2 linked regions of the Homo sapiens genome follow. The protein of the gene in region 1 purifies or fractionates together with the protein of each later gene. This does not show direct contact. Each region holds a gene or a part of one and is shown on either strand. Other genes may lie near its edges. The genes, in order: ARMH1 and CA1.

Region 1 (3,825 bases):
GCTGTGTGTAGACCTTCCCTCTACTCATCAGTTTTCAACTCTATGTCTCATTCCTGCCCTTCAAGCCCTGCCTGAGGTCCCTGTGCAAGGAGGCCTACAGAGTCCAACTTCCTTCCTCTTCATGCAGCAAGAAAGTTTAGAGTCATTTCTTTCTTGGCGGTTGAGGGTCTGGAGTGCAGGCAAGTGCTCTGCACACAGAGGTCAGTGAATCCCCCTAGGTTGGGCTCCATACCTCATTTCTGACCTTCAGTGGTAATTTGTGCTTTCAAGCATTAAGCCTCTTAGAGGTCAAACTGGCTGAATTGACTGGTTTCTTGTTGGTAAGCTCCCCTTGTTGGCAGTTGCTTGCAATTTCCTCTGCTTCAAGCCGGTTAGCCTCCCTGCACCTGCCTTCTGCCTTCCAAATATTTGTTGAATTCTTTCATCTCCTGTTGCCTCCTTCCATGAACTTTTGTGACTGAATGCTTTTTTATATTTCTTCAGCGGGGTTATGTCACTAAGGTTTTTCAGAAGTAGGGGGAGATAAAAGACATTAAGTATATTTAATTAAGAGCCTCCAGTCATGTATTATTTATCTCAACCTTTCTTTAATAGTAAGCTTGATGAGGGTAAAAAAAGACCCATTAACTACCATTTTTAAAAATAATTAATAAGATGAAAACAGTGGAAAAAAGACCAAAATGTGTCAATTTCAAGAGTCAGTTGCTGGGATAAATTGTATCTAAGCTTGTTGACCGCTAAGGAAAAAGTGATGTTAGCTGTGTTTCCTGGTGAAGGCAGAAGGAATGAAGGCAGGGAGAAGAAACTGACATTTTTTGAGTGTTGATTAAGAGCTATCCACACACCATACGCACACACACTCACACACTCTCTCTCTCTCTCTGTGGTTGTTTTTGTTTATAGAGATGGGGTCTCTCTGTGTTGCCTAGGCTGATCTCAAACTCCTGGCCTCAAGCTATCTTCCCACCTTGGCCTCCCAAAGTGCTGGAATTACAGGTGTGAGCCACCGCACCCTGCCTAAATTCTTTGTTTTAATCCTCTTAAGATCCTCAGGAGGTCATCATTATCCACAACTTTCAGATGAAGAAACTAAGGTTTAGAAGGGTTTGCTCATTTATTGAAGGTCTCAAATAGGGATGGGAATGGGATTTGAACTTAGATCTGCATATAACTCCAAAGTCCAGGTTTTTCCCCACTAAGCCAAGGGCATGGATCCTGTTCTCCTCTGTGCTCCAAGGTGTCACCAATAATCTCCTGTTGTCAGATTTAGTGGTTTAGCTCACCGTCCCAGCGTGCTTGGTCTCTCTGATGGATTGTGAATGACTCTTTTCCTAACCCCAGAATCCCCTGGTTCTACTCCAGACTCTCTGAATCCTCAGTTGCCATTGCAGGATAGTGCCTTTGCAGGTCGTTTTCCCGTTCTTAGTTCTCTTCTCATGCTTTGTAATCCCTGGGTGACCTCATTCACCCCATCACTTCAAATTACATTTATAGGCGCACGACTCTCAAATCCGTCTCCTCAGTCTGGGCCTCCCACCTGAGCTCCAGATCTCTTTATGTACTTAAGTGACCGGCAGACTCTTCACTGGTATGTGTCACAGGCTCCTCAAGTCAACAGGTCCCAAACTGAACTCATCAACTCACACCTGCCCCTTGCCCTGTGTTGGTCCTATTTCAGTGCTTGGGTCACCACCCTCCTAGTCAGCCAAAAGTTGTCTTTGACTTATTCCTCTCCCTTGCCCTCATCTGAACTGTTGCCAGCTCCTGCCAATTACATGTCCTAAATTTCCCTGAGATCAGTCTGTCTGTCTTCACCTCCACTGCCGCTATTTCAGTTTCACACCCTTGTTCCGCATATGGATTACTGCAACAGCCTCCACTGGTCTTCGGGCTTGCCCCAGCCTAAACTCCACAGTGATGTGAGATTTTTTATTTTTATTTTTATTTTTGAGACAGGGCCTTGCTCTGTCACCCAGGCTGGAGTGCAGTGGCACAATCATAACTTACCGCAGCCTCAATCGCCTGGGCTCGAGTGATCCTCCCACCTCAGCCTCCTGAGTAGCTGGGACTACAGGTGCATGCCACCATGCCCACCTAATTTTTATTTTTATATTTGTTTATTTTTTGTAGAGGTGGGGTCTTGCTTCGTTGCCCAGGCTGGTGTCAAACTCCTGGGCTCAAGCAATCCTCCTGCCTCGGCCTCCCAAAGTACTGGGATTACAGGTGTGAGCCACCAGGCCAGGCTTTGATGTGAGATTTTTAAAAGTACAAATCTGACAGATTTCACTGCTTCAAACTCTTCAGTGGTTCCTTACTACCTGAGGATAAAGCTTCAAACATTTCAGGCCAAAGAATTTCCATCTAAATTCGGCCCCAGGTGAAACCTGACACCCCACCCCACCCCTTGCCTCAACCCATGCTGCTGCTGCTTCTAAATCAGGAAGGGGGCTGCCCACTATCCTACACCTCAAACACCATTCTCTAAATCCCTACTACTGTTCCTGAACCCTTCCTCCTCCTCTGAGGTCAGGCCATCTGTCTTTCCCTCTCTACCTTGCCGCAGTGCCGATCAATGACTTTGACACGTAAGCCTTCCTGTTTACTCAAGAGCCACTAGGCAATTTCAACATCAGTGTGCTCCATCTTTGTAATTTGGGTGGCTAGCAGGGTCTCTGGTAAAACACAGGCACTCAATAAGTGTTATTTAAACTGACATCCAACACACTGTGCTCAGAATGTGCACTTTAATTTCCTTAGCTCTGCACATTAGTTAATTAAACAGATTCCCAGGTGCCAACTCTGAGCCGAGCACTGGGCTTGGGATTGGTTAACGTGACAAACATAGACCTTGCCCTCGGGTGCTTACAGACTGGCAGGGCAGAGAGACAAGCAAAAAGGTGATTTTAATGAACAGTGGAGAGCGCTCTGATGGGATATATCCCAGGTTCTGTTGGCGCACAGAGAAGAGACATGGAATGCAGACTCCAGCGACCTCCCGCTTTCACCTCCAACCAACACAGCTTTCATACCCAAAACCCACACCCCAAATCTGTGACTGGCTAGCACCATCCCACCTATGAAGTCTACAATTCCAAGCTCCTTACCTTCCCACCTCTTCCATCTATTCTCAGAAGGCCTACTTTTGGGTTTAACAAAGAAAGTTATAGGCCATTAGGTAAGAATGTCGTCATACTCCTCTTCTTTCTTCATCTCTATCCACATCCATCCTTCTCCTCTCCTTCTCTAGCCATCTACCAGAGCTCTGCCTCCATCCACCCCGCCTTCTCAGGGCCCTCATTCTACTCATTACTCCTGCCTCCCTTGTATCCTTAACCCCTCTATTTAGGCATTTTTCTTGTTAGCCTTGATTTTTACCTATCTTTATTATTATTTATTTATCAGTGTATTTATTCGAGATAGGGGCTCACTCTTGTCACTCAGGCTGGAGTGCACAGCACCGTCATAGCTCAATGCAGTCTTGAACTCCCGGGCTCAAGCGATCCTCCTGCCTCAGCCTCCTGAGTAGCTAGGACTATGGGTGTGCACCACCATGCCTGGCTAACTTAAAAAAATTTTTTAGAAATGGAGCCTCACGGCCGGGCGCAGTGGCTCACGCTTGTAATCCCAGCACTTTGGGAGGCTGAGGCAGACAGATCACGAGGTCAGGAGATCGAGACCATCCTGGCTAACACGGTGAAACCCCCTCTCTACTAAAAAATACAAAAAGTTAGCCGGGCATGGTGGTGGACGCCTGCAGTCCCAGCTACTCGGGAGGCTGAGGCAGGAGAATGGCGTGAACCCGGGAGGTGGAGCTTGCAGTGAGCC
Region 2 (3,825 bases), on another chromosome or scaffold:
GTGCTATAATTTCAAGAGTTACTTGGTTACCCGGGCATACCCAATTTAATAATAACTTTTTCATAGAACTTTTCAGGGATTCTTCTATAGAGGATTTGAGCAACATCTCCCATTTAAAAAATCAATTGAATATTCTTTGTAAGAAAAAATTCTCTTACTATTTCTTTCCTAATGAGATATTAAATTGATAAATTTCTGAATCTATGATTTCAGGTTTCCTTATTAATATTTAATAATATTTCTTTCCTGATGAGACATTAAATTAATAAATTTCAGAATCTATGATGTAGGAAATTTAGAGGAAAGGGAATTTGGAAGAGCTGGAAAATAGAAATTCCTTTTTCCCTGTGAACACATTTCTATCTCACCTCCACCTGAAACTCATTTCTCTCTTTAAGAGGGAAAAGCAGAGATAAAACCAAGCAATAAAATACTAGGGAACTATTTGTTCACCTGTAGTCATCGGTTAAATGGAAACTTTAAAATAAGAAATTCTAAAATATATGTTGCCTTATTTCCTTCTATTTTGAGGTCTAATTGGTAAGACAGTGGAAGCAGAGCTGTGTAATTATCTGTAACTCACCTTCATCAAAACACCAATAACTGCCAAACCATCAGCCTTTGAGGCAGCTTCAGCAAGGCTGGAGTACTTTGCAGAATTCCAGTGAGCTACGTGAAGCTAAAAATGATACTATGGTTAATTAATTATTTATACCAGTGTGATGAAAAAAGATAAGTTATAAGTTAACTTGTTACCATATGATGATGTATCTTGGCTTAGATACATAAAACTTATGTGAACCTTTATCCAGTGGATTAGAAGAGTTACATTCTCACTCGTAGGAAGGGTTATCTGTGTGCCAGGTAGAGATTACAAAACCTGGAACCAGTAAGCAAAATGTCCTTTCCTACGATATTGTTATTTAATATTACTCCTTTAAATGTATCTCTCTTTGTTTTGAAAAGATCAGGAAATATGACTAACTAGTTTTTGGGAAAATAATTGAAGTAATTTTCTCTCACATGAGGTACTTTATAGTAAATTTATGAGAAAGGGTTCCTGGAGTTCCTGGGAGTCTTGGCCAAGAACAGATTCTTTCAGGCACGTTCGTGCCCTTTCCAAACATCTCTCAAATAAATATCTCCAGCTTAACGTCTCTGCAAACTCTAGATTTGTACATCCAAGTATGTATATATGTATTCTTGATATATTCTTGATATCTCTACATGGATGTCTAATAGATGTTTCAGACTTAATCTGGCCAAAATAGAACTCTAGATTTCCTTCTTGCCAAACCTGCTTAATTTTACCTTCTTAGGATAAGGTTTTTAAATGCTCAATCAATAAGTACAACAACTATCATTCATTTCTTGCTTTCCCCACCTATCAACATTCACATCTTACAGGTTATACTTCGTCACATGTTCACAACTTTGAGCCTTTGCATTAGCTTCTAATTTTCTCTGGAATTTCCTTCCCCATGATCTTCAAATGGCAGACTTTTGTCTTGAATTAGGGTTGAACTCAAATGCCACTCCTTAAATAATTCTTTCCTGATCATCCAATATAAAGTAACCACCACAAATCAAAACAGTTCTATCCATATCACTTATTTAATCTCTCTTCTTCCTATTCTCCTCCCTCCCTTCCTCCCTCCCTCCCTTCCTTCCTCCCTCCCTTCCTTCCTTCCTCCCTCCCTTCTTTCCTGCCTTCCTTCCTCTGAAATTTTTATTTTCCCTATCAAATGCAAGTTCTGATAGCAAGTACTTTTTAAAAACAGTATCTCACGCCTGTAATTCCAGCACTTTGGGAGGCCGAGGCGGGCGGATCACGAGGTCAGGAGTTCGAGATCAGCCTGACCAACGTGGTAAAACTCCATCTCTACTAAAAATACAAAATTAGCCGGGTGTGGTGGCACATGCCTGTAATCCCAGCTACTCAGGAGGCCGGGGCAGGAGAATCACTTGAACCTGAGAGGAGGAGGTTGCAGTAAGCCGAGATCGTGCCTCTGGACTCCAGCCTGGGCAACAGAGCAAGACTCTTTCTCAAAAATAAATAAATAAATAACGACAAAAAATAAAGACAGTATCTGGCATATTGTAGGTGTCCAGTGAATATTTGTTGAATGAAAAAAGAATGATTAAGACAGTATATTAAGAGGGATCACTTATTGCAATTTCCTCTGACCATGCCAGTGTAGATTCTGTCCCTACTTGTAATTAATTATTCTTACATCTGTATTCCTATGCTTCTTTGTGAATAGTCATACTGCCATTTGCTACTATATTTATTTAATCACAATAATTTATGCCTATACTTCCCTGCTTGAAAAATGTTTGCTTGTGTCTCTACGGAAATGTTAAGTAACATTATTCAGCACATGCAACATGAAAGGTGCTGGTCTAAGTGTGCTCTGTATGGGTTAACTCTTTTCATGCTGTCAACAATTATTAAGATAGATACTAATGCTATATTATCTAGATTCTCTATATAGGAATACTGGAGCGTAGAGTGATTTGTTTGAATTTGTACAGCTAGTAAGTGGTCGAGCTTTGATTCAAACCCTGGCAGTCAGCTGGGTACTTGCATTCTTAAGCAACAGGCTGCATTGCCTCTCAAACCTATTGTCTTATAGGTATCTCAAGAAGGTTTATTGAACTGAATTTAATCATATGCTAAACTTTGTGGCTAAGTGTCTCTCAATATCTAGCATGGATTATATTGATTTTTCTCAATTTAGATGAGAGAGTCACTAATTTAGTTTTCTTGGATACTACCAACTATCCTTCCAAAAAGATAATACTAATTTAGGCTCTTAGTCCATTTAATTTTAATCTACCTTCAATTTTATGGAGGGGAAAACCCAATTAACAGATTTCTGCAGCATTGAAAGGTGTTAGTCATGCTTTACAACACAAGGTAAAGCAAGTTTTATTTGTATACAATCTGCTGATGTTCTATCAGAATAGAAGATACATATACTTTGTAACGTAGCAGTCTGCCCTGGAAAAATCTATCGTACATAATTACTTTCACTAGTGCACAAGATATATGTACAGATATATTCACTGAAGCATTTTTTAATAAAAGCAAAAGAAACCAATATAACAAAAATCATATGTTGTGATTGTTCATCAATAGAAGGCAGTTAAATAAATTCTGATGCATTCACCCAAATGAAATACTATGCTGACAGTAAAAAAGGTGGAATTCAATCTTCTGATTTTTAAAAATTGTCATGATAAGTGGGTAAATAGAAAAAAAGCAGGTTGCAAAATTATATATATTATAGAATTCATTTGATGAAAGTAAAATTAAAAAGTCAACCTGCATATATGGGTACACATGTATTATATAATTCATACACCTAAAATAAAGAGCAAAATTTCTCACATTTTAATCTCCCAGACCCTCTGCTGAGAGTTTGGTGTACATGTCTCCATTTTTCTTTGGATATACAGATAATAATGTCCTGAAATAAGTCACAAACTTCCATGTGAGAGCAGGTTAAGAGCCAGGGAAGGTTAGACCCTCATCTAGGTGTATGCTGTTCTGTGACCATTGCTGTGGTTAAATTCGAGCTCTTAGTAGAGTCTCATTGAATTGTCCTGGCTTGGCCACAACGATACTGCTGGTGTATCCAAACTTGAACGTTTAAATAAAGAGGAAATGATGGTGTGTTCCATTTGGGGTTACAGCTTTAAAGGAGGAGCAGTGTCATCCTTTGAAGCTAGCTTTGATATCAAGGTAACAGCTTTTGAGGCATTCTCAGGGAAAGGTGAATCTTGGGCTCAGGAGTTTAGCTGCCTCTTTCCACATGAAAA

The links.
Region 2: the proteins of ARMH1 (region 1) and CA1 purify together in Homo sapiens (affinity purification with mass spectrometry; one large-scale study listed by BioGRID and IntAct). This does not show direct contact.

What each region holds. Positions count from the first base shown.
Region 1 is NC_000001.11:44,681,064-44,684,888, reverse strand, and holds part of ARMH1 (armadillo-like helical domain containing protein 1), read right to left. Parts: intron 497-3,825; exon of another isoform or gene 238-496; coding exon of another isoform or gene 233-237; intron 1-232.
Region 2 is NC_000008.11:85,332,942-85,336,766, forward strand, and holds part of CA1 (carbonic anhydrase 1), read right to left. Parts: intron 680-3,825; coding exon 584-679; intron 1-583. UniProt on the Homo sapiens protein: Catalyzes the reversible hydration of carbon dioxide. Can hydrate cyanamide to urea.